Linked DNA regions of Homo sapiens. The protein of the gene in region 1 purifies or fractionates together with the protein of each later gene. This does not show direct contact. Each region holds a gene or a part of one and is shown on either strand. Other genes may lie near its edges.

Region 1 (8,789 bases):
ACAAGGGTGCCAAGTCCATTCAGTGGGGAAAGAATAGACTCTTAAACATGTGGTGCTGGGACAACTGGATCTCCATATGGAAAAGAGTGAAGTTGGACCCCTACCTCACACCATATACAAAAATAACTTAAAATGTATCACACTAATATACAAGAATTTACTTAAAACTCCAATAGAAAAAGTAAAACTATAAAACTATTAAAAGAAAACATAACAGAAAATCTTCATGGCATTGGATTTGGGAATTAGGTATGATGCCAAAAGCATAGGTAATAAAAGAAAAAACAGATAAACTGGACTCTATAAAAATTTAAAAGTGAATCAAAGAACAATATCAAAAAGTGAAGAAAACCCACAAAATGGGAGAAATTATTTGCAAATCATACACCCAATAAGGGTTTAATATTCAGAATATATAAAGATCTCCCACAATTCAACAGAAAAAAAAACTCAATTAAAAAATGGGCAAAGGACTTAATAGACAGTTCCCAAAGAAGACATATAATGGCCAATAAGCACATTAAAAGATGCTCAACATCATTAGTCATTAAAGAAATACAAAATAAAACCACAGTAAGATACCACTTCCCACCACCTACTAGGATAGCTATAATTTTTAAAAAAGGAAATTAAGTTTTGGTGAGCATATGGAGAACTGGAACACTTGTACACTGCTCCCATGGAAAAACAGTTTTAGCAGTTCCTTAAAAAGCTAAACTAAAAGCTTACCATGTGATCTAGTAAGTCCACACGTAGGTATATTCCCAAAAGAATTGAAAATAGGAACTCAAACAGATTCTTGTACACCAATGTTAATAACAGCATTATTCACAATAGCCAAAAGGTGGAAACAACCTAAGTGTCCATCAACATATGAATAAATAAATATGGCATATATATAATATAAACAAATGGAATATTATTCAGCCATAAAAAGAAATCGAGTTCTGATACATGCCACAACATGGGTGAACCTTGAAAACATTATCCTCACAAAAGACTCTGAATAGCCAAAGCAATGTTGAGCTAAAAGAACAAAGCTAGGGGCATCACACTACCTGACTTCAAAATATACTAAACTCTAGTAATTAAAACAGCACGGTACTGGCATAAAGAGACACACAGATAATAGAACAGAACAGAGACCCAAGAAATAAAACCACATATTTATAGCCAACTGATTTTTGACAAAAGAGCCAAGAACCCACAATGGGGAAAGGTCAGGCTCTTCAATAAACGGTGTTGGGAAAACTGATAACCATATGCAAAAGAATGAAAGTAGTCAATTATCTCTCACCACATACAGCATCAACTCAAAATGGACTAAAGACTTAAATGTAAGACCCCAAACCATGAAACCACTTGAAGAAAACACAGGAAAAAAGCTCCCTAACATTGGTCAGGGCTAGAGGTTCCCAACCCCAGGGCCACAGATTAGTACCAGTCCATGGCCTGTTAGGAACCAGGCCACAAAGCAGTAGGTGAGCAGCAGGCAAGCAAGCGAAGCTTCATTTTTCTTTACAGCTGCTCCCCATTCCTCACGTTACCACCTGAGCTCCACCTCCTGACACATCAACGGTGGCATTAGATTCTCATAGCAGCGCAAAACCTACTGTGAATTGCGCATGCAAGGGATCTAGGTTGTATGCTCCTTAGAAGAACCTAATGCCTTATGAACTGTCACTGTCTCCCATCACTCCCAGATAGGACCCTCAAGTTTCAGGAAAACAAGCTCAGGGCTCCCAGTGATTCTACATTATGGTGAATTGTATAATTATTTCACTATATATTACAATGTAATAATAATAGAAACAAAGTGCACAATAAATGTAATGCGCTTGAAATATCCTGAAACCATCCCCTCCCTCCTGTGGATGGAAAAATTGTCTTCGATGAAACCAGTCCTTGGTACCAAAAAGGTTGGGGACTGCTGATCTGGGCAATGATTTTTTGGATATGACTTCAAAAGCAAAGGTAACAAAAGCAAAAATAGACAAAGGGATTACATCAAAATAAAATGCTTCTCTGCACAGCAAATTCAACAGACTGAAGACAGAATCTACAGAATCGGATAAAATATTTGCAAACTATACATCTAATAAGAGGTTAATTTCCAAAATGTTTAAGGATGTCAAACAACTCAATAGCAAAAAAATAAAAAAATTAAAAAACCATATTTAAAAAATGAGCAAAAGACCTGAATAGACATTTCTCAAAAGGAGATATACAAATAACCAACAAGTATATGAAACATTGCTCATCAATAACCATCAGGGAAATGTAAATCAAAATCACAATGAGATATCACCTCACACCTGTTAGAATGGCTATTACCAAAAAGACAAAAGATAAGTGTTGGCGAGGATGTGGAGAAAAGGGAACTCCTTCCTCGCTGTTGGTGGGAATGTAAATTATTACTAACATTATGGAAATAACTCAAAATATTAAATGTAGAACTACAAGCGGGTCCAGCAAATCCACTACAGGGTATATATTCAAGGGAAATGAAATCAGTATGTCAAAGAGCTATCTGCACTTCCATGTTTCCTGCAGCACTATTCAACAATAGCCAGAATATGGAATCAAGCTAACTGTCCATCAACAGATGAGTGGATAAAGAAAATGTGATATACATATACAATGGAATAGTATTAAGCCATAATAAAGAATGAAATCCTGTCATTTGCAGCAACATGAATGGAACTGGAAGACATTCTGTTAAGTGAAATAAACCAGGCAGGGAAAGACAAATATCGCATGTTCTCACTTATATGTGGGAGCTAAAAAATTTGATGTCATTGAGGTAGTAAGTAGAATGGTGATTACCAGAGGCTGGGATGGATGGGTGGTGGGAATGAAGAGAGGCTGTTAATGAGTACAAAAATACAGTTAGATAGAAGGAATATCATAGGGTTTGAGAGCTATATAGAGACAAAAAAATAGGTAAGTGATTGCTAGGAAAGCGGGTGGGATTGAGTACTAATGGTTATGGAGATTCTCTTTTGGGTAATGAAAAAGTCCTAAAGGTAATTGTGATAAAGGTTGTACAACTCTGAAGACAAACTAAAAACCATTGTATTGCACACTTTAAATGAGTGAATCATATGATATATTAATTATATCTCAATAAAGCTGTTTAAAAAAGAATTCTGAGTGGAATTGGCCAGATACAAAAAAGACTAAGATGGCAAATTTTATGATATCTTACTCCAATTTTTTAGAAACATAATTCAGATCACGTTTCCCTAACAACTCTCCAACAGCTTCCCATCTCCCTCAGAATGAAAGCCCCAATTTTCAATATAGCCCATAAAGTCCTACACATTCTGGCCCCTTTCCCTTTCTGGCCTGACCTCTGACCTCCTCTCCGCTCTGCTCCAGCTCACTAGGCCTCTTAAGTTGCTCTCTGAACATAAAGAGGCAGGTTCCCCCAGGGCCTTTGTACTTTCTTCTCCTCCAGAGAACGTCAAGGTAAGTTCTCTCACTTCCTTGAGCTCTGGACTCAAAAATTCCCTTCTCAGCGAGGACGTCCCTGACCACTTATTGTAAAACTGCAGCTCCCTACAGCCCCCCACCCACAACACACACACACACTCTTCATCCCCCTTTCCTTTTTAATCTCTATTTTCACCTTCTGTCATCCTATAATTTTACTTTTTGCCTGTCTCTTTCCACTAAAATGTAAGCTCCAAAAGGAGAGAGATGTTTGTCTGTTTTGTTCATTGTTGGTATCTCTAGTGCCTAGAGCAGTCCTTAATAAACATTTGTTGGATTAATAAAGGGAGACCACTGTGGGGGAAAAAAAATAAAAGAAAATAAAATTTTAGCTGAAGAATGCAAGCCCCTTTAAATTATCAGGCCCAGAGAGGCATTAGAATGAAAAAACAGTCCCGTCTCACTCCCGGTCTGAGCTGGATAATTATCTCTTAAAGCCCACCTGCTATATGGGCTCTAGACTGGAACCAAGAAGCCATAAAATGCCATATGCTGGACACGATAACTCATACCCTATGAGTTACAGTGTACAGCCAATCACTAAGCAATGGTATCTCTGTAAACCAATAACAATTCCTGACCAACTTTGTCTCAGCCCACTCTTCCCCTTCGCCTTTAAAAACCTGCTTGTAACCAAGGCTGAAGGAGCACTCCCCAAGGCAACTGGGAAATGAGTCCTGGGCAGCTGTCCTCATTTTGGCTGAAGTAAACACTTTAAATTATAATTTTGTGCCCCAGCCTCTTCCTTTTAGGTAGACACCACTATTCAATGACATCAAGATCTGAACTGTCCTACTTATCCCAATATCCCACCCCTAAAAAGAAATGTACCGAACCATAAAAAGCCTGAAGTACTCCGACTTACAGACTCCTGTATTAGCATCCTAAGAATTATATTACCCTCTTCAATAGGGAGTAGTATTTTTCATATCAAACCTAGCCTGAGAACAACTGAGATTCAACTAGGAAAAAAAGAAAAGAAAATCCATTAAAGACTGAGTGATTTGAACTCAAAAATATCCATCATCACTTGCTAAATCATAGACAGCAGGTTATTTCCCTCGACTTTGCTGTGCAGACCTGTAGTGGCTCAATTTCTGCCATAATAAAGGCCGTACTAGAAAGAGCAATCCTAACTAAGCGCGCAAGGTAAACATCAAGCTGGGGCCGTCAGGGGCGGGGAAACACTTTCTGAATGGCGGAAGCTCCGAGAGACGCCTTTCCCAGCTGCTCCAGAGGGGAAAGGAAAAGGGAGAAAGTCTGTTTTTCCAGAATCTCCCAAACACAGCCCAGGGGCCTGCTCCGCGGGCCTAAGCGCCTCCACGTGTCTCAGAAGCCTAGCACTATAGATACCCCGGGGCACGGAGCTGGGAAAACGGGAATAGGAAGACACTTTACCCCGAGAAGATCCAGTCCAACAGGTCTTCTTCAGCCGGATGACTGTGGAGCGCCACCACAAGCAGGGCCTGCAACCCAGGCATCCAGGCTAGACACCAAATCAGCAAACTTTATTCCCGCGCTGCCGAGTACAAGCCGGCGCCTCCCCGGCGCACACAGTACACATCAGCTCCGGGAGACCTACCCGACCCGCCCCTCCAGCGCCGTCCCCGCCCCCGTTCCTGCCCCACCCCTTTCCCCGCCCCCGGCCCGGCTCGCCTTTCTCGCGGCGCTGCAACCCTCCCACCACAGCCCATCCAGCCCCGCCCAGCGCGCCGCGGTGCGCATGCGTGGAGGCCCTCGCTGCCGCTGAGCACCTCGGGAAGTGTAGTCTCTTCGCAGGTGCGGCTGGGCAGCTAGAGTCCTGCATCCCGGTGGAATCCGGAGAAGTGAGAACATTCCCGCCGCCCGGTCCTCATTCCCATCTTCCCACCTGTCCAGTCCCCTCGCACTCCCGCTGCACCCCACGCGCCGGGCTTCAGTCAGAGAGTGCACTGAGGAAGAGCGGAGACCCCCTCTTCCCCTCAGCAGGCTGTGCCGGGGGAGGCGGGGTCCACCGCCCGCCCCCCGCCGTCGCTCTCCCCGCCTCCCCTTCCCTCCCCTCCTGGCGGGTGCGGGGCCGGTGTCCGAAGTCAGGCGGCGGCCCCCGCAGCGGCCGCAGGAGGGGCGGCTGCGGTGGGCGCCGCGGGCGATGCCCCTGCCCGGCTGCTCCGGCGGGGGGCAGTGCGAGCGGCGGCGGCGGGGGAGGAGGCGGGGGGCGGCGGCTGCGGCGGCTGCAGCAGAGGGGCCGAGAGCTGGCGGTGGCGGCGGCGGTGGTCGTGAAGGGCATCGGCGGCGGCGGTGATGGCAGAGATGATGTGAGTGCCCGCCGGCTGGAGACCTGGGGCCGCGGAGCGCGGGACGGGCGGCGGCGGCGTGCGGGAGCGGCCCCGGGGGCGGCGGAGGGATGCGGGGAGCGCGGGCAGAGCCGGAGCGGCGGCCGCCAACCGGCCGGCAGTGGCTGGAGCCCCGCGCTGCGGCGCCGGGGGAGCCGGGCCCGGCGTGGGGGTCGCGGGCGGCGGCGGGGCGGTCAGGCCGAGGGGCGTCTGCGATTGTTCTCAACACCCCTCCCCCACCCCATCCCGTGTGTCTGTTTGTTACTTGCAGCTGAAGATGGAAAGAGCCAGGCGAAGGGGAGGCGGCGGCGGCCGCGGCCGCGGAGGCAAGAATGTAGGGGGCTCTGGCCTAAGCAAGAGTAGACTCTATCCCCAGGCCCAGCACTCCCACTACCCCCACTACGCGGCCTCAGCCACCCCTAATCAGGCCGGGGGCGCAGCCGAAATCCAGGAGCTGGCCTCCAAACGAGTGGACATCCAGAAAAAGAGGTTTTACCTAGACGTGAAGCAAAGCTCCCGGGGCCGCTTCCTAAAGATAGCCGAAGTCTGGATAGGGAGAGGCCGGCAGGACAACATCAGAAAGAGTAAACTGACCCTCTCCCTGTCTGTGGCAGCGGAGCTGAAGGACTGTCTAGGGGACTTCATCGAGCACTATGCCCACCTGGGCCTGAAAGGCCACCGGCAAGAGCATGGCCACAGCAAAGAGCAAGGCTCCAGAAGGAGGCAGAAGCACTCGGCACCCTCCCCACCAGTCTCGGTGGGGTCCGAAGAGCATCCTCACAGTGTCCTGAAAACAGACTATATCGAGAGGGACAATAGGAAATATTACCTAGACCTAAAGGAAAATCAGCGGGGTCGCTTCCTACGGATTAGACAAACCATGATGCGGGGGACTGGCATGATAGGTTATTTTGGCCACAGTTTGGGCCAAGAACAGACTATTGTCCTCCCAGCACAAGGAATGATTGAGTTTCGTGATGCCTTGGTTCAGCTGATTGAAGACTATGGCGAAGGAGACATAGAAGAACGAAGAGGTGGAGACGATGACCCGCTTGAACTCCCAGAGGGGACTTCTTTCAGAGTGGACAATAAAAGGTTCTACTTTGATGTGGGCTCTAATAAATATGGAATTTTCCTGAAGGTAAGTGAGGTGAGACCACCTTACCGTAATACTATTACTGTTCCATTCAAAGCTTGGACAAGGTTTGGGGAGAATTTTATCAAGTATGAAGAAGAGATGAGGAAAATTTGCAACAGCCATAAAGAAAAGAGAATGGATGGCAGAAAGGCCAGTGGTGAAGAACAAGAATGCCTCGACTAGAGTGAAATTGAACTCCATCAGGCAAAATTTAAAATCACAAATTGGCTAAAAGTACTGATCCATTATCCTTTGAAGAAGTTTTTCCTCTTTTTTGGCCCGTTGTTATTAGTAATACCTCTAGTAGTTGATACTTCAGGAAGTCTGATTCTCATGTTATGTTACACATAGATCACTATAATTCTTACGGGAATTCCAACCTTCCCAGAGCTAAATAGTTTAGCTGCTTCAACTGCTCCAGACTATTGAAGTATGCAAATCAGCACAAAATGTGACATTCTGACATTCTAAATACCATAACTAAGATTTACATTGCACTATGACATAATCCCGAAAAAAGATACATATACTTAAATAGAAGTGTGACTTTCCCCCAAAAGTATTTCAATTCTACTTCATTAAAAGCTGCTAAGCTTACCTGTAGGGCAGTTACCACAGAAACAGAAATTGACCTCCGGTATATATAAATATTTACTTATAAAAGTACAAGTAGACGTATATTGTCCGTTGAATAACTGAATATACCATCAAAGGATCAAATCTTATTACCTAATTAAACCTTAAAAATATAATGTCATAATATTTCTTAAGAATACTATAGTATTCTATAATTTCAAACTTTGTGGTAACCCTACATTTTATAGTTGCCATATCAAAGCCATGGGAGAGTTTTAATTCGTTATTCTAAGTTTAGTTACAATCCCTTCTTTACCTCTACTTAATGTTCCATATATTTTTATTGACTTTCCAAAGTTTCAGGAATTACTTTTATGTCACATTGAGTGGGAGGCTTCATCCAATGGCTTTGCTATGGAAATCTTGGTGGTGTAGCTTTTCATGCTAATTTAAAGATTGCAAGAGGTTTCTTCCCCAAAATATATCATGGACTCAAGGTGTTATACTTTATGCTTCTTCTTTAACACTCTTTCAGAAGGGTTGGTGTACCAATTAACTGATATAAAAATATACCTGTAATAATATATTTTAGTAGCACTTTTGCAATTGCTACCCTTAAAACCATGTCAACACTTCCAATATAATCCTGAATTTTACAGGTGTTTTAATTCTGGAGGGGGTGGGGATTTTTTTTTTCTAAAAATAATTTAGAATACAAATTTCCAGTCTGAGAAAAATATTATTTGAAGATTGGTTATAAATATATTTGAAAGGAAAATTCAGGCATTTTCCAAGGTGCTCTTTCTGACTTTACACAAGACTCACCCATTTACCTGTATTAAAAATTACTTTCCAGGAAGTGCCACAGCAATTTTTCAACACCTAAGCAATTTTTTAAACAAGTGGATATAGTGTTATATGTGTACCAACCCATCCTGTATTAATTGACTGAAATTACATCTATTCAGCTATATTTTCTTCTGAATGAAATTATTGTCTTTTATCTTGGCTTTATTCACCTCCCACACAATAAGTCCATCTAATCATATTTAAGAGCCAGAACACTGATTTCAACCCCCAAATATCACTCTCATTGATGAGAGCTGGCTGCATGGATTCAAATCAGAATGTAGCTCTTCTTTTATATGCTAAAAGTAATTTAAAATTATATCAGCGATTTTTTTCTTCCAGAGTTTTGTCCCCCAATACCTTTACGTGAGGTCACTAAGAAAACTTGATGGTATGAATTAAAAAAATTAATTTCATTG
Region 2 (7,937 bases), on another chromosome or scaffold:
GAGTCAATTAAACCTCTTTCCTTTATAAATTACTCAGTCTTGGGTATGTCCTTATAGCAGCGTGAGAATGGACTAATACAGGGGTACATGTGCTATTTTGATACATGCATACAATGTGTAGTGATCAAATCAGGGTAATTAGGATATCTAACACCTCACACATTTATCATTTCTTTGTGTTGGGAACATTCCAAATTCTCTTAGCTTTAAAACCTAGAGTGTCCCAGGGCTCAAACATCAGATACCTTCTCTATTCGATTTTATCCAGACTCAGAACTTTAGCATTTATCTATAGAAGACTCACACATTTACATCTCCAGCCTAGATCTTTTTCTTGAACCTCAGATTTATATATTAAATTATCTATTTTATATCTACACTTGGAGAACATCTCCTAACTGGTCTCCTTGCTTTCAACTCATGCCCCTTTATAGTTTATTCTCTACAAAGCACACCCAGTCAATGCTATTGAGTATAGATTCATAGACTGTACACTGCACAAAGGTTCCTGGCTGGGAGGGAAGAAGAGGGAGGAAGGGACAGCAAAATCCGGTCCATGTTCTGCTGGCTAAGCCATGATCCTGGTGTGGGGCTATAACTGTCCAAAGGAAGGAGCACCATTTTCTAATTCACATAAAGGCATACACTGAATAGAAACAACTCTGGCCAGACTGACTGATAATATCACACACCCTTGCCTCAAACCCTCCAAAGGCCTTCTGTCTTACTTCATGTAAAAGCCAAAGTCCTAATAATGGCCCATGAAGTCCTATACAGTCTGGTCTTTCTGATCTAATTGCCTACCACTTGCCTTCTTGCCCACTCATTCTAGCCACATGGTTCTTTGCTATTTCCTAAACCTTCCAAGCACATTCTTGCCTTAAGAAATTGCTCTTCCCTCTGCCTTGAATGCTGTACTCAGAACTTCACAGCTTATTCCTTTACTTACTTCTTGCCTCTCTTCACGTGATACCTTATTAGGGGGGCTTTCTACATAAATTAACAATTCTATTTTGGTATTTTATATCCCTGTTACACTCCTTTATTTCTCTCCATAGCATGCGGCACCTGGTAATGTTATACATTTGTTTATGGTTTTTCTATCTCAAATCCCATTCTATCTAGATAAGGACAATATTTTACTCCCTGCTGCAATTCCAAGTCCCTAAAACAGTGCCTGGTGCATGGTAGGCATTCAGTAAATACTTACCAAATGAATGAACATCTACGGACTCCAAGAACCTATAATGTCCATGTTTTGAAAAACTATGGAGCTGCAGCTAACTCAGAAGTTAGGTTCTTGGCTAGGCACAGTGGCTCACGCCTGTAATTCCAACACTATGGGAGGCCAAGGCAGGAGAATCGCTTGAGCCCAGGAGTTCAAGACCAGCCTGGGCAACATAGAGAGACTATGCTGCTTGCTATTTATAAAGTCTATAGTAGTGTACAGTAATATCCCTAGGCCTTCACATTCACTCACCACTTCCTCACTGACTCACCCAGAGCAAAATCCAGTCCTGCAACTTCCATTCACGGTAAGTGCCCTACATAGGTATCATTTTTAATCTCTTATACTCTATTTTTACTATACCTTTTCTACAACTAGACATGTTTAGATACACAAATACTTACCATTGTGTTATAATTGCTTAGAGTATTCAGTACAGCAACATGCTGTATAGATTTGTAGTCTAGGAGCAATTGGCTACATCATACAGCCTAGGTGTGTTGTAGGTTGTACCATCTGGGGTTGTGTAAGTACATTCTATGATGTTTGCACAACAATGAAATTGCCTAACAATGCATTTTTCAGAACACATCTCTGTCACTAAGTGATGCCTAATTGTAGTTATACTGTATAACATGCAATAGCAAAACATTTACTTTTATTAAATACTCATTAGAATTACTAGAATTCCCATAATTTATTCATTAGTTAAAAGTTGAACAGGAGAGAAACCTAGATAAGGCATCTGTTACTGGTCACCACATGTAACACCATCAGATGATGGCTGATTTGGCTGGAAAATACACAGCTCATCAACTAGAAAGACACAGTACAGTCATGTTGCACTTTAGGCTGTTCAATGTTTGTTTTTTGAGATGGAGTCTCACTCTGTCACCCAGGCTGGAGTGCAGTGGTGTGATCTCAGCTCACTGCAACTTCTGCCTCCTGGGTTCAAGCAATTCTCCTGCCTCAGCCTCCCTAGTACCTGGGATTACAGGTGACTGCCACCATGCCTGGCTAATTTTTGTATTTTAGTAGAGACAGGATTTCACCCTATTGGCCAGGCTGGTCTCGAACTCCTGACCTCAAGCGATCCACACACCTGGGCCTCCCAAAGTGATGGGATTACAGGTGTGAGCCACCGTACCTGTCCATGTTCAATGTTAACATCATCATTTTAACATCAGTCTATGATGCATAAGGAATACTTAAAATAATTTTCATCACACTATTTCTGTATTTACTTTCCTAGTAACACTGGGTATAATAGCAGTATTACACTCAATTCACAGTGTCATGCAACCTACATACACACAAAAGCTGTTATTTCCCATCATGTCTTCAGAAAAGGGTTACAAAGAGGAAGACAATTTGACCAGAATTACTCGACTTTTTTTCCATTCTCAGCCATCTGTTGTCCCATACATTAGGGGTTGATACCATTTCCATATTTAAACATTCAAAGAGTTATAATGACCTGGAAGGGCGCCTTGATTCACTGAAGATACAAAAGTCATCTCCATCATCCCATATTCTACTGGAGGCCTTTCTGTTGCCGCCACCTCCACCACCACCACCACCGCCACCGCCACCACTCCCATGAGATTTACTGGCGTGACTCCTGCCTCCTCTTCCTCCTCTAGAAGACCCTTTTCCACCTCCTTTGCCTGGCTTGCCTTTTCTTCTTACTGAAGAACTCATTTTCACCTGCAAGAGAAAAAAATTAATGTAGACATCATAAAACCAGACATGTATGATAATCCTTTGTTTGCCAAACTTATGAATATAGGCTACTTTAAAGAAACAAAGGAAAATGCATATGTAAAAAGAGCTGGTCTTGGGGCAGGATTCTGAATCTGTTCCAGTGAAAAAATTTTAAAACTACAAAATAAAAAGAGCCAGCCAGTTTAGGGATAGTATGGATAAATCTTCACAAAAGATTTATAAGCACTTCTACCTCAGGACTAATATTTAGTGAATGTCTCTGATACAGATTTCTAAACTAAAGATGTACATCATAAACACATGGAGAAGTGTCAAAATACACATGTCTAGGCTTTAATCCTAGATTCTCATTTGGTTAGGTCTAATTTAGAGTTTTATTTATTTATTTATTTATTTATTTAGAGATGGAGTCTTGCTCTGTCGCCCAGGCCGGATGATCTCAGCTCACTGCAACCTCTGCCTCCTGGGTTCAAGCAATTCTCCTACCTCAGCCTCTGGAGTAGCTGGGACTACAGGCGCCTGCCACCACGCCCAGCTAATATTTGTATTTTTAGTAGAGATGGGATTTCACCATGTTGGCCAGGCTGGTCTCGAACTCATGACCTCAAGTGATCTGCGCACCTCAGCATCCCAAAGTGCTTGGATTACAGGTGTGAGCCACTGCACCCAGCCTAGCATAGGATTTTAAAAATCCAGTTGAGAAGTTTTCATGTATTTAATATATGTTTTGACAAAATTTAAATTTATATATGCTCTATCAGGAACACAGCTTGGGCTCAGAGATTCTGCCAAGGGCAAAAGGGAAGTAGGCCGTAAGACAGATAGCTCCTAATCTTTTTCCAAAGGACTGACTCCATTTACAATGGAGTGTGGAGAAGTTCAAACCTAAAGGTGCTTTCAAGAATAGTGAGGTTGTGGGGAAAGGGAGATTACAGGATTAAATGAAGATGTAGTTTAGACTGTTGGCCAACTAGTTTGCAGGAAGCAAACCAAGGAATAAGATCACTAGGAAGTTCCTTTTTGGGATTAGAATGAGTATTAAACTGGGATCTCAGAAACTATTGCTTCAAAGAAGCCATACTTTGGTTGGATTAGTTTGTAAAGGAATTTACTCTCCAGAGCATTGTTGAAAACAATTCAGCAATCAACCATGGGCATACCTAAAGCTGTACCTCCCAGAGGAGCAACAACAGAGGCTTAAAATCGTAGGAGGGAAATAGACTTCACTAAAATATTCTAGCCAGTCACTAAAAATTAAACCAGCAAATAACAATAAGAAGCCCCTGAAAGGGGAGAATCAGTACCCAGAGTTGTTACAGTATGTTATCCAAAATGTTCAGTTAACAACAAAAAAGTCACAAGGCATGCAAAGAAACACTTAAGTATAACCCATACACTGGAGAGAAAAAGCACAAACTGCCTATGAGTGAGAACAGATGTCAGATTTAACAGAAAAGGAGTTCAAAATAGTCATTATAAGTATGTTCACAGAAATAAAGGAATGCACAATTAAAGCAGTAAAGGAAGGTATGATGACAATGTCATATCAAATTGAGAACATCAATAAAGAGATAAAAAATTATATATATAAAAAGAACCAAATGGGAATTCTGGAGTTGAAAAGTATACTAATTGAAATTAAAAATTCACTAGAGAAGCTCAACCATAAACATGAACTAGCAAGAGAAAGAACTGATGAACTTGAAGACAGACTGACATTGATTATGCAAGCTGAAAACAGAGAGAACGATAAATGAAGAAAAGTGAACAGAGCCTTGGAAAAATGTGGGACACCATCAAGGGTACCATATACATATAATGAGAATACCAGAAGGAAAGGAAAGAAAGAAAAGAGCAGAAAAAATATTCAAAGAAATAATGGTAGAAAACTTCTCTGATTCATTAAAAATCAATAACCTCTACATGCAGGAAGCTCAATGGCCTCCAACTATTAGAAAATAAACACAGAGATGCACAAAATAGACATGTTGCAATAAAAATGTTGAAGGTCAAAAGACAAAGAGAAAATCATGAAAGGAGTAAGAGAAAAACAACTTATCACTTACAGGGGGGAACCCCAATAAAATTAATGACTGATTTCTTCACAGAAACAATGGAGGGCAGAAGGTAATGACATATATATTTAAAATACTCAAAGAAAAAAATAGGGCTGGGCGTGGTGGCTCATGCCTGTAATTCCAGCACTATGGGAGGCCAAGGCGGGCAGATCACGAGGTCAGGAGATCGAGACCATCTTGGCTAACACAGTGAAACCCTGTCTCTACTAAAAATACAAAAAATTAGCTGGGTGTGGTGGCACACACCTGTAGTCCCAGCTGCTTCGGAGGCTGAGGCAGGAGAATCACTTGAACATGGGAGACAGAAGATGCAGTGAGCCGAGATTGCGCCACTGCACTCCAGCCTGGGTGACAGAGTGAGACTCCATCTCAAAAAAACAAAAAACAAAAAACAAAAAAAAAACAACAAAAAATAGTTAACCAAAAATCCAGAAAAGCTATCTTTCAAAAATGAAGGTAAAATGAAAACTTTCTCAGACAAACAAAACTGAGAGAATTTGTTGTCAATAGACCCGCCTCACAAGAAATACTAACAGTTCTTCAAGTTGAGGCAAGTATCCCTGGATGGTAATTTAAATCTACATGAAAAAACAAAGAGTACTAGTAAAGGTAATTGAGTAATTATTTTTAAAAATCCACATTTATATTGGACATTTATTTATTTGAAAACCAGTACAAAAGTATTGTCTCTTCTTTTCTCTGAAATGATTTAAAAAGCAGTTATATAAAATAATATGTATATGATATAATGTTGGGCATGTCACCTACAAGAAGGTAATATGTATGTAATATATTTGCCAATAACAGCACAAAGAAGATTGGTGGGAGCGTAATTGTGCTGTGCTGAGAAAATGACTACAGACAGTAAAGTAATACTTGTAACAAGTATAGTTGGGTATATAACATTAATAGATATAATATGTATAACAATACTATAAAAAGGAGGAAAGGAATAGAGCTATATAAAAGTAATACTTCTATGTATCTGTCTTAGTCTGTTTTCTGCTATAACAGAATGCCACAGACTAGGTAATTTATAAACAACAGAAGTTTATTTGTCTCATGGTAATGGAGGCTGGGAAGTCCAAGAGCATGATGCTGGCATCTGCGTAGTGTCATCTCATGGTGGAAGATGGAAGGCAGAAGTGGGCACGATACAGAGAGAGGTACCAGCTGCCAGACTTATTTTATAATAACTCATTCTTTTTTTTTTTTTTTTGAGACAGTCTCACTCTGTTGCCCCAGCTGGAGTGCAGTAGCGTGGTCTCAGCTTACTGCAAGGTCTGCCTCCCTGGTTCATGCCATTCTTCCACCTCAGCCTCTGGAGTAGCCGGGACTACAGGTGACCGCCGCCGGCTAAGTTTTTGTTTTTTTGTATTTTTAGTAGAGACAGGGTTTCACCATGTTAGCCAGGATGGTCTCGATCTCTTGACCTTGTGATCCGCCTGCCTCGGCCTCCCAAAGTGCTGGGATTACAGGCGTGAGCCACCGCGCCCGGCCTAATAACTCATTCTTGCTATAACTAACCCACTCCCATGCTAGTGACATTAAACCATTAATAAGGGCTCTGCCCTCATGATCGAATTACCTGTTATTAGGCCCCATCTCCTAACACTGTTGCATTGGAAATTAAATGTCTAATACATGAACTTTGGGGGTAAACATTCAAACCATAGCAATATTGCTGGAATTAAGCTAATATAAATCTGAAGTTGTTCATAAACCCCAAAGCAATCACAAAAATACTACATTAGAAAATATTCACTTAATGACTAAATGCAAATGAAAGCATAAAGTAAGAACAGAAGAAAAAATAGACATTGAGAAATACAGACATCCAAAAGTAGAATAGAGTTAGATGTAATTCTCAGTATATAGACAATAAAAATAAATGTGAGAGAATAAAGCAGTCCAATCAAAAGACAGAGATTGTCAGACTTGATTAACAAACAGGATCCAAATATATTCTGTCTGCAGGAGAGGCACTTTAAATTCAAAGACACAATAAATGAAAAGTAAAAGGATGGAAAAAGATGATCTTGCAAACAGCAACTACAAGAAAGGTGGAGTGGCTATGTTAATAGCTTACAAAACAGACTTTAAAGCAAAAAATATTACTAGAGATAGGGATATTTCTTAATGATAAAAGGGTTAATCTGCCAGGAAATGATAACAATTAAAAACACATATGTACCTAATAATAAGGCACCAAAATACACAAAGCAACAACTGACAGAAATGAAGGGAGAATTAGACAATTCAATAATAATAGTAGGAGACTACAGTACCTCACTTTTAATGGTAGAACAACTAGACAGAGGATCAACAAGGAAATAAAAGACTTGAACAACACTCTAACCAACTAGACCTAATAGGTGTCTATAGAACACTCCACCCAACAACGAACTATACATACTTCTGAAGTACACATGAAACATTTTCCAGGATATAGACCATACTAGGTGATAAAAGAAACCTCAATACATTTTTTTTTTTTTAAGACAGAGTCTTGCTCTGTCGCCCAGGCTGGAGTGCAGTGGCACAATCTTGGCTCACAGCAACCTCCGCCTCCCAGGTTCAAGCGATTCTCCTGCCTCAGCCTCCCGAGTAGCTGGGACTACAGGCACCCGCCACCATGCTCCCTGACTAATTTTTGTATTTTTAGTAGAGATGGTGTTTCACCATGTTGGTCAGGCTGGTCTCGAATTCCTGACCTCAGGTGATCTGTCCACCTTGGCCTCCCAAAGTGCAGGGATTACAGGCGTGAGCCACTGTGCCCAGCCATAAACCTCAATAAATGTAAAAAGAAAGAAATAATATGAACTATGTTCTCCAACCAAAATGGAATTAGAAATCAAAAGCTAGAAAAAATTTGGGAAACTCACAAATATGTGTATATTAAACTA
Region 3 (8,678 bases), on another chromosome or scaffold:
GGAAATGGAACAAAACTTGAAAAAGAAGAAAGGTATGCCATGTTGTTTTGATAGAATCTTACCACTATAGCAATGTCAAAATAAAGCCTTATGTGTTTTAAGACCACTGTTACTAACAACTTTTGTTATTAACAGATGAAATTGATGAGGGAAAGTCTTCTTTCATTTTCTTTTCATAACTTCATTCTCCACCCAGCCTGTAATATTACCTGGTCTTGTCTCGTGAGTTTCAGTAAATATGGGGATATGTACGCTTCGCACTGGCCAAAGCCAGGTCACAAGTTAAGTGAGGCCTTATCTTTGGTGGTCCAAGTCAAGCCCACCTTTGGGTTGCCTGGCCATGGCAAGAGAGAGCTCCCCAGATTTGCCGTGTGCTGGTTCTCATGACCTGCCACAGGAACCTTGAGTCCTCCTTTATCACACTCACACACACACACACACACACACACACTCAGGAACGCTCATTTCCATTTCCACAGTACGCCATCTGGACTCTCCTAGATTTTATTAACCTTGTTGATAAAATAATTCCTACACAGTAAAGGTTTCCTTCTCACTAGGATCATAGTTAAAATGGCAATTTCTATTATTTTCAACATGGCACCAGTGTATTCTTGGGCTATATACTTTTTGACATCATTTTTAAAAAAATGCCACTGCTAATTATTATTATTATTATTATTATTATTATTTTTTGTAGAGACGGAGTCTCGCTTTGTTGCCCAGGCTGGAGTGCAGTGGTGTGATCTCAGCTCACTGCAACCTCTGCCTCCTGGGTTCAAGCATTTCTCCTGCCTCAGCCTCCTGAGTAGCTGGGACTACAGGTGCACGCTGCCATGCCCAGCTAATTTCTTTTGTATTTTAGTAGAGAAGGGGTTTCACCATGTTGCCCACGCTGGTCTCAAATTCCTGAGCTCAGGCAATCCACCTGCCTTGGCCTCCCAAAGTGCTAGGATTACAGGCGTGAGCCACTGCGCCTGGCTGCCACTGCTAATTATTATTGTCAAAGGAATCTGTATATAATCAATAAGTGAGTCAGGTAATTTTTGTGTGTGTGAGAAAGGGGGAGCAGCTGCTGTTGCTACTAAAACCTTATTCATAACACTTACGTTGTGGGGTGGGTGTGGGGCAGGCAGTCAAGTGCAGCAGAAGGAATTTTCCATTCCACACTGACCACACCTCCGTGAAGGCTGTTTCCTAATTATTCCTAGAAGCAGCTAGGATCTGTCTTAGCAGAAGACATTAAGTCTGATTTTTAGTTGTCTCTCCTTTTATCTTCTTTCTTCAGAGCCTAGCACAAGCTAGAAACTCAATAAATGCCAAAGAAGCAAATGGAGTGTTCCTTTTACCAGCCTATATCCTGAAACCCAGAGAGCAGGGAAAAACTGTTTAAAAACTGTCTAGAATGAAAATGCCACCAAGTAGGAGCAGTCCATTGGCACAATACAGGAGGCTGTAGCTTTGGGGCAATCATTTTTTAAGGTCTCTATCTTTCAGCATGCACAGGTTCCACAGCTGTTTGTATTGTTAAATACTTTCTCCACTCCACTTTTTTCCTCCTTAAAGAAATCAAAACATTTTTGGTGGGGAGGTCTAAAAATTATTGTGAGCCCTAGGCACTGAGTCTCCTGTACCTTACTAACAAGTCAGTTCTGGCTGGTGCCTGGGGGAACTGGTTGGTAATGTTTTGATCATCACCCCAGGTAAGTATTACACTGTACATCAGAAGTAGAAAACTGAAATGCCTACAAGCAGGCTGGGTATGGGGAATTTGTCCACCGTGTATGATGAGTTGGTGGCTAAACTGGTGTTCATAGCCCCCTTCCCTAGAAGTCGCTGCAGGCCACCTCACCTGGATTGTCCCCCAGTGTTGCCAGACTTCCCCATTTTTCAAGAAAGGCTAGAAACCCTGAGTTTTATGTAAAATCTCTCTGTTTTAAAATGCTAGCTCAAATTTCAAAGAAAAAATCTCCCTGAATGAACCAAACAAAACATCTCAGTATTGTATATGGCACTACTTTGTAATTTCTCTTGAACGTATCTGCTGCAGGGAGAAGCCTTAAAAACAAATGGCAGGTGTGGGCACCAGAAAATCAACACATCGGGAAGAGAAAAATGGCATGGTTTTACTGTAATTGTAAAAAGGTAATACTAGTTGCAGTAAATTGCATGATTCTTACTGTTTATGTGTAGTCCCTTAGCACTAATCTAATTATTCAGATTCCATAAAATTCCATTTGGATTATTTTCATGCTATTTCACTTTCCTGAATTTGTAATTTGAGTAATAGGGCCAGAATTTCATGACGTAATAGGGCCAGAATTTCACGTATCAAGAATTCTTACTCATAATTGTGATGTTCAATTTTTTTTTTTTTTTCCTGAGATAGGGTCACTCTGTTGCCCAGACTGGAGTGCAATGGCAAGATTCCCAGTGCTCTGGTGGTCCTCCCACTTCAGCCTCCTATCTGGGACTACAGATGCATGCCACCACATCTGGCTGATTTTTAAATATTTTTTTGTAGAAATAAGGTTTTGCCATGTTGCCCAGGCTGGTCTCGAACTCATGGGTTCAAGCCATCTGCCTGCCTTGATCTGCCCGCCTTGGCCTCCCAAAGTGCTAGGAGTACAAGCCTGAGCCACTGTGCCTGGCAATGATTTTGAATTTTTAAAAGCGTACTTAACCCTTAATAAAGGCCCGTATTATTTCTAGTCACATCATATTTGTCTGACTTGCTTTGGGGCTTACAATATAAAAAAGAAGAGAGGAAAGAAGTCTGCATTCTTTTGTTTTTGACTCTTCAGGAGTATTTAGTAAAAATTATTTTTAAAATAAGTAGGACTTTGGGGATTTGACTGAAAAGCTACACATATTCACTTTCTAGTGACAAAATCAGCCTGTGGCATTGTCAGAACACCACAAGGCATACCCAGTCCCACTTCTCCTCTTCATCTCAGCTGATGATTTCACTTTCTAATCCTATAAACAGTTAAGATCTAGGCTGGGCGCGGTGGCTCACGCCTGTAATCCCAGCACTTTGGGAGGCCGAGGTGGGTGGATCACGAGGTCAGGAGATGGAGACCATCCTGATTAACATGGTGAAACCCCGTCTCTACTGAAAATACAAAAAATTACCCGAGCGTGGTGGCGGGCGCCTATAGTCCCAGCTACTCGGGAGGCTGTGGCAGGAGAATGGCATGAACCCAGGAGGCGGAGCTTGCAGTGAGCCGAGATCACGCCACTGCACTCCAGCCTAGGCGACAGAGCGAGACGTCTCAAAACAAACAAAACAAAACAAAACCCTGTTAAGATCTAGTGTGCTGAGCTCTTCAAAGTGGTAAAGTATAGGTTCCTTGGAAACAGAAGGGTCTCTGATTTAGGATTGGTGGGGAGGGAGGACTGTAAGCCTTCCTGGAGGAAGGGACATCTTCACCCAGAGTAGAATTGGATTAGACTTCAATGAGAGGGCAGGGCAAGGTTGAGGGAAGAGGCCCAGAACTGAAAAAGTATGACAGAATCCAGCAGTAGAAGTAAATTGAATTGGGTTGGAGGGTGCAAGTCATTCTAATTTCATGTGTAGCACTTGTCACTTTCAGATCATTTCTTGTTTACTGTCTGTTCTTCTACCCTCATACCCTCACAGAGAATAGGAGGCCTGGCCTGCTGATTCCTTAGTGGCTGGCATATATGTCTGTTAATCTTTCTTGAGAGCCAGCCTTGTGTCAGATCCTGTTCTAAGTGCTTCCCTCGCTCCCCACCCCCGCCATTCAACAAAATTCTACTTCTTCAGAGCTGGTTCAAATGCTTTCTTCTCTATGACCACCCCCCCCCCTGCCCCGCCCCGTCTCTTTTCCTCACTCCTACTCTCAGAATTAATTACTTCTTTCAGAGGTCCCTCAGCTATTGATCCTTCCTTGCAGCATCAATTTAATTATGCATAGTGTCAGTTTGCGGTTTCCTTGTCTCCTCCATTTCTCATTAAGTTTTAAATCATATGAAGACAGTGCATGTTTGTCTGTCTCTGTAAGCCCTACAACACTTTGGGCAGGCTTTTACACACAAAACGGGGCTCAAAAATATTTTGAATAAATGATTTAGGGAGAGGTCCACAAACGCCCTCCACTCCCACCCTAGTCCTCAGAGCAATACTTTAAAATAAAAATCTGACCATTTCAACCTTGTTAAAGGCCGATCTTCATTCTGAGAACAGAATTCTAACTCCTAAGCACGATGGTGACCTCAGGGCGCTGTGTGAACCTGCACCCGCACCCCTGTCCAACCACGTCCCTCCCCACACCTGGTCTAATAAAACGACTGCTTTAGGTGACCTGCACGATCGGCTGTACTGATTCATGCCACAGGCTTTTACCTCAATTACTCCCTCTGTCTGGAATGTCCTTTCTTTCCTTGCCTGGCCTGATTCGGGCATGGCCTTCTCAAGCAAGCTTTCCGTCTTTGAATCTAGGCCCTGATTAAGAACTTTTTAAAAAAGTACTAAGTTCAGAAAAGTTTAATATGGTGTTCCCCCATTTATGTGATTAAAAATGAAAACAATACTAAAGTGTAAAATGTAATCTTTAAAATGTCACACAACTTTACATGCATGCTAGATTTAGAATACCATCTGTATTTACGATTTTCTCTTATTGACTGTCTCCACGCGCACCCACTCTGCAGACGCCCTAAAGAGTGTCTATCGGATCACCCTCAAGTTGGGTCAAACGGCTCCTCTTCTCGGCTTTTCGGGAGCAACCCTATCTCAACATTCACCATCTTAAGATGAGCAGACTGCAAGTTTGCCTCTCCCACCAGTATGGGAGCTGCCGAAGCGGCAAGAACAGCGTTTCCGTCCATCGAGCGCCAGGTCACCAGTCAGCTCCAGTCCTATTTTGAGTTGAAGTAAAAGCTCCTCCCTAGATGGCCAGTGCACGTCTTTAAAAAGCGACTCCTTTCCCACAAAGGAAATACGACTGGTTCGCATCTATCAAGGGTTGGCGTTGGGATAAGAGGGTGAAGTATCAGCTGGCCCTGATTCTCTGAATTCCCGGACCCAATAACGCGACCAAGCACCGTGACTCCCAGGAAAACTAGCGGAGTGAGCGCGGCTGAGGAAATTACTGACACCGGAAGTCACGTGAGCGGCTGCCCCTAAGGTCGCTATCTCGACAGTCGACTATTCAGCCTTGCAGGCGCCTCTGGCGGGCTTCACTGAGATCCGCTCTTTCGGTGCTCGACTCGCCCGTGCTGCTGCCGCCGCCGAAGGAGGGGCAAAGCTCAAGATGGCGGACAAAACGCCAGGCGGATCTCAGAAGGCCAGTTCAAAGGTAATTTCTGACAAAATTTCGTAAGTCAGCGGATCTACCACTGTCGTTTGGGGCCCACAGACGCTTCTGGCCTGTGAGAGGCGATTGGGATTGGGGTCTGCATTCTAGTCGCGACGGTAGGCCCGGGCGCCGCCGCACCGTTGTGCGCAGGTTGAGAGGCCTGGTATCTCCCCATAGTCCCAGCCGGGATTCAGCTCGAGACTGGCGTGCCCAGTGGGTGGAGGCGTGAGTGCTTCGGCCCGCGCTTGGCATTGGAGTGAAATCAGGAATTCAGATTGAGGTCTGAAGCAGTGAAAACGCTCTCCTGTATCTCAGCTTCCTGCGCCCTGAGGCCGCCAGACAGCGCCTGGGAGAGAGGCGGGAATCGCTTCCCGGTGCTTAAATGTCTGCTGCTTTTTTCTCGGTTTTGGATCTCACTCACTTCCGGCCTCCCTCAGTTTCCCTCCAAGGAATGAATAACCTCTAGGGTCGCCAGCTGTGAGGGGAGGACCACTAGGGCAAAGACACGGAGTGGGAAATGCAGAGGCGGGAGCAGCTCTCCTTTGCAGTGCTGCATAGCCAAGGTTAATGTACAGTCTACACGTGGTCTTTACCTTAACGGGAAGTAAAAAGCACTTTTGAGGGTAGAGGACTCGTGGTCTCTTTCTTTATGTTGAAGAAACAGTGAAAAGAGAAGCTCCGTAGACTTGTAAGCTACATACGATTAGTAAATTGCATTTGTGTTTACAGGGAACCCTGGGCACGTATTGTGAAACCAGTGAGCTGTGGTAGTAGTTAAGCATTAGTACGGTTGGGTTCTTAGTTGCCATCTTGGGCGGGACATTTAATCGTTTTTTGGTTTGGGTTTCTGGTCTCGAATATATTAAAAGTAATTGGTACTGCCACGAGGTAGTTAAACTTTCCGATGCTGATGCAAGAAGCTGTGTAACACTTTCAGGTGCTAGGGACTGTTAAATCTTAAAGAGTGTGTGACTGTAAATCGGCTATTAGAAAGTTAAATTTACGGTAGGAGAGAAGCTTGCGTTTACAGTTCTGAGAAACATCATAACTCGTTTTCTACTTGCTTTCTCTAATCCGACTGTTTATGCCATTTGGTGAACGATGTACACCAAAATAATTAATTCATAATTAGTAATGGTCTTAACAGACATCGTTTAGTTACATAGAAACTTTGGTGAGGGGCCAGTTTCGGCTTCTTTACAAGGTATTGTGTCAGTTTTTTTTCCCCCTCCTCAGTACATTTTCTCGTCTCCCTCTCTTTGGGGGCGAGCTCTACCAACTCTTCTCAACAGACTCCTGACAAGAACATACCGTTAGGGAGCTATTACTAAAGCTAGCTACGTTCATAACAAGTCGTGCATAAGCCTCACAATTTTTGTTTCTTCTCAAAGTAATATTTTAAGTATTCCCTACTTGAGGTCTTGGATACATTGAAAACATTTCAATGTCTGTGTTCAGGCTTCCTTCTAAAATAGTGCTTCTCATGACTGAATGTATGGCTGTTCTCAATAAATAAATTATTGGATTATCCAGTAATCTTTTCTGTTTATATTGCCTTAGATTATAATCTCTTGATGCTATTAGCAGATTTCTTACTGATGTCTGTGAAAGGAATCAGAATATCTTAACTAATTTGGAGGCTGCATAATGTAGTGGGAAGATTATGAATTTTGTTAACAAGAGATTTGGGTTCAAATCCTGACTTGGTAATTAATTATATTTGCGATAATAAGGCAGATTGCTTAAACTCTGGAGCCTCAATTCCCTCATTTGTAATGTAGATATAATTCTTTTTTTACATGGTTGATATAAGGATCAAATGAGATAATGTCTATGAAGTACATAATAAATCTTAATTTCTTTCCCCTCTTTTTGTTTTTAGAGGAAATCAAAAGTTCTTAGCTTTCAAAATGTCAGGATAAATTTTAATCCTGTGATTTGGAATCTAAGTCATCAGCTGTCATAATGACTGCCCAGATAGCTGCTTTTTATTTATTTTATTTCTTTTTTTTTTTTTTTTTTTTTTTTGTGAAAGAGTTTCGCTCTGTCGCCCAGGCTGGAGTGCTGGAGTGCAGTGGCACAATCTCGGCTCATTGCAACCTCCGCCTCCCGGGTTCAAGTGATTCTCCTGCCTCAGCCTCCCTAGTAGCTGGGACTACAGGCGCCCGCCAGTACGCCCGGCTAATTTTTTGTATTTTAGTAGAGACGGGGTTTCACCATGTTGGCCAGGATGGTCTCGATCTCTTGACCTCGTGATCCACCCGCCTCAGCCTCCCAAAGTGATGGGATTACAGGCGTGAGCCACCGTGCCCCGCCCTGCTTCCCTGCTTTTTATTTCTAACACATAATTTATTAGAGAAATTGTAAGATCATTTTGGCTAATACTACAGTATTTAGAATTTCTAGCCTTTGATATCTGGTTTGATTTCCTTTCCTCTGGAAAGAACAGATGAGTGGCTTATATTTTACAATACAGATGGAGTGAACAGATACTTCTGTTTCATGATTCGTCGTTTTCTTTGGTAGTTACATTCCCGTTAATATGGATAGGGATGCTTATTATATTTCTAGACATTGGGAAAATGTTAATTTTAAATGTACAATATGGCAAAATTATTAACATTTCTTAATTATAAAAAGATTAAATTAGATAACCTCTACAGGTCTTCTAGTTGGGGTGTTTTTTTTTTTTTTTTTTTTTTTTTTTTGAGAGGGAGTCTTGCCTTGTCGCCCAGGCTGGAGTGCAGTGGTGCAATCTCAGCTCACTGCAACCTCTGCCTCCTGGGTTCAAGCAATTCTTCTGCCTCAGCCTCCCGAGTAGCTGGGACTACAGGCGCCTGGCCAATTTTTGTATTTTTAGTAGAGATGGGGTTTCATCTGTTGGCCTCTTGACCTTGTGACCCCCCCCCCCCGCCTCGGCCTCCCAAAGTGCGGGGATTATAGGCGTGAGCCACCGTGCCTGGCTTCTAGTTTTAAAATGATACTTTATGTATGTGTATGTACTTGAATGACTTACCTTTATTCATAATTGTCCCTAATGAAGAGACCCCTGTGCACTTTAATTTTCTGTGTAATTTTGTTGTGCTTTGCATTTTAGAGCCTGGCAGATGTAGACATTTAACAAATGTTCTAGAAATGAGCTAAAATTTTCCTGTGCATTTGTTTGTTTATCACTAGTCTAAAATATTGCTTGGTTGGGGAGGGGTGTTGATGTTATGTAGTAGCTTTCATTTTGAGAGGAGAGAGAGAGAGCCTGTAATTGTTTACTTATAAAATTGTTAAGCATATTTCCTTAGAATTTAATTTATAAAAAAATTACTGTTTTTGACTGTCAATTGTTTGCTTACTCAGCAA

The links.
Region 2: the proteins of PURG (region 1) and DHX57 purify together in Homo sapiens (co-immunoprecipitation; 2 studies listed by BioGRID and IntAct, with this or other methods). This does not show direct contact.
Region 3: the proteins of PURG (region 1) and U2SURP purify together in Homo sapiens (co-immunoprecipitation; 2 studies listed by BioGRID and IntAct, with this or other methods). This does not show direct contact.

The regions. Positions count from the first base shown.
Region 1 is NC_000008.11:31,030,078-31,038,866, reverse strand, and holds PURG (purine-rich element-binding protein gamma), read left to right. Parts: upstream 1-5,510; 5' UTR 5,511-5,789; exon of another isoform or gene 5,790-6,078; 5' UTR 6,079-6,084; coding exon 6,085-7,128; 3' UTR 7,129-8,017; downstream 8,018-8,789.
Region 2 is NC_000002.12:38,865,477-38,873,413, forward strand, and holds part of DHX57 (putative ATP-dependent RNA helicase DHX57), read right to left. Parts: intron 2,936-7,937; 5' UTR 2,930-2,935; coding exon 2,706-2,929; intron 1,757-2,705; exon of another isoform or gene 1,633-1,756; intron 1-1,632. UniProt on the Homo sapiens protein: Probable ATP-binding RNA helicase.
Region 3 is NC_000003.12:142,996,350-143,005,027, forward strand, and holds the start of U2SURP (U2 snRNP-associated SURP motif-containing protein), read left to right. Parts: upstream 1-5,220; 5' UTR 5,221-5,279; coding exon 5,280-5,324; intron 5,325-8,678.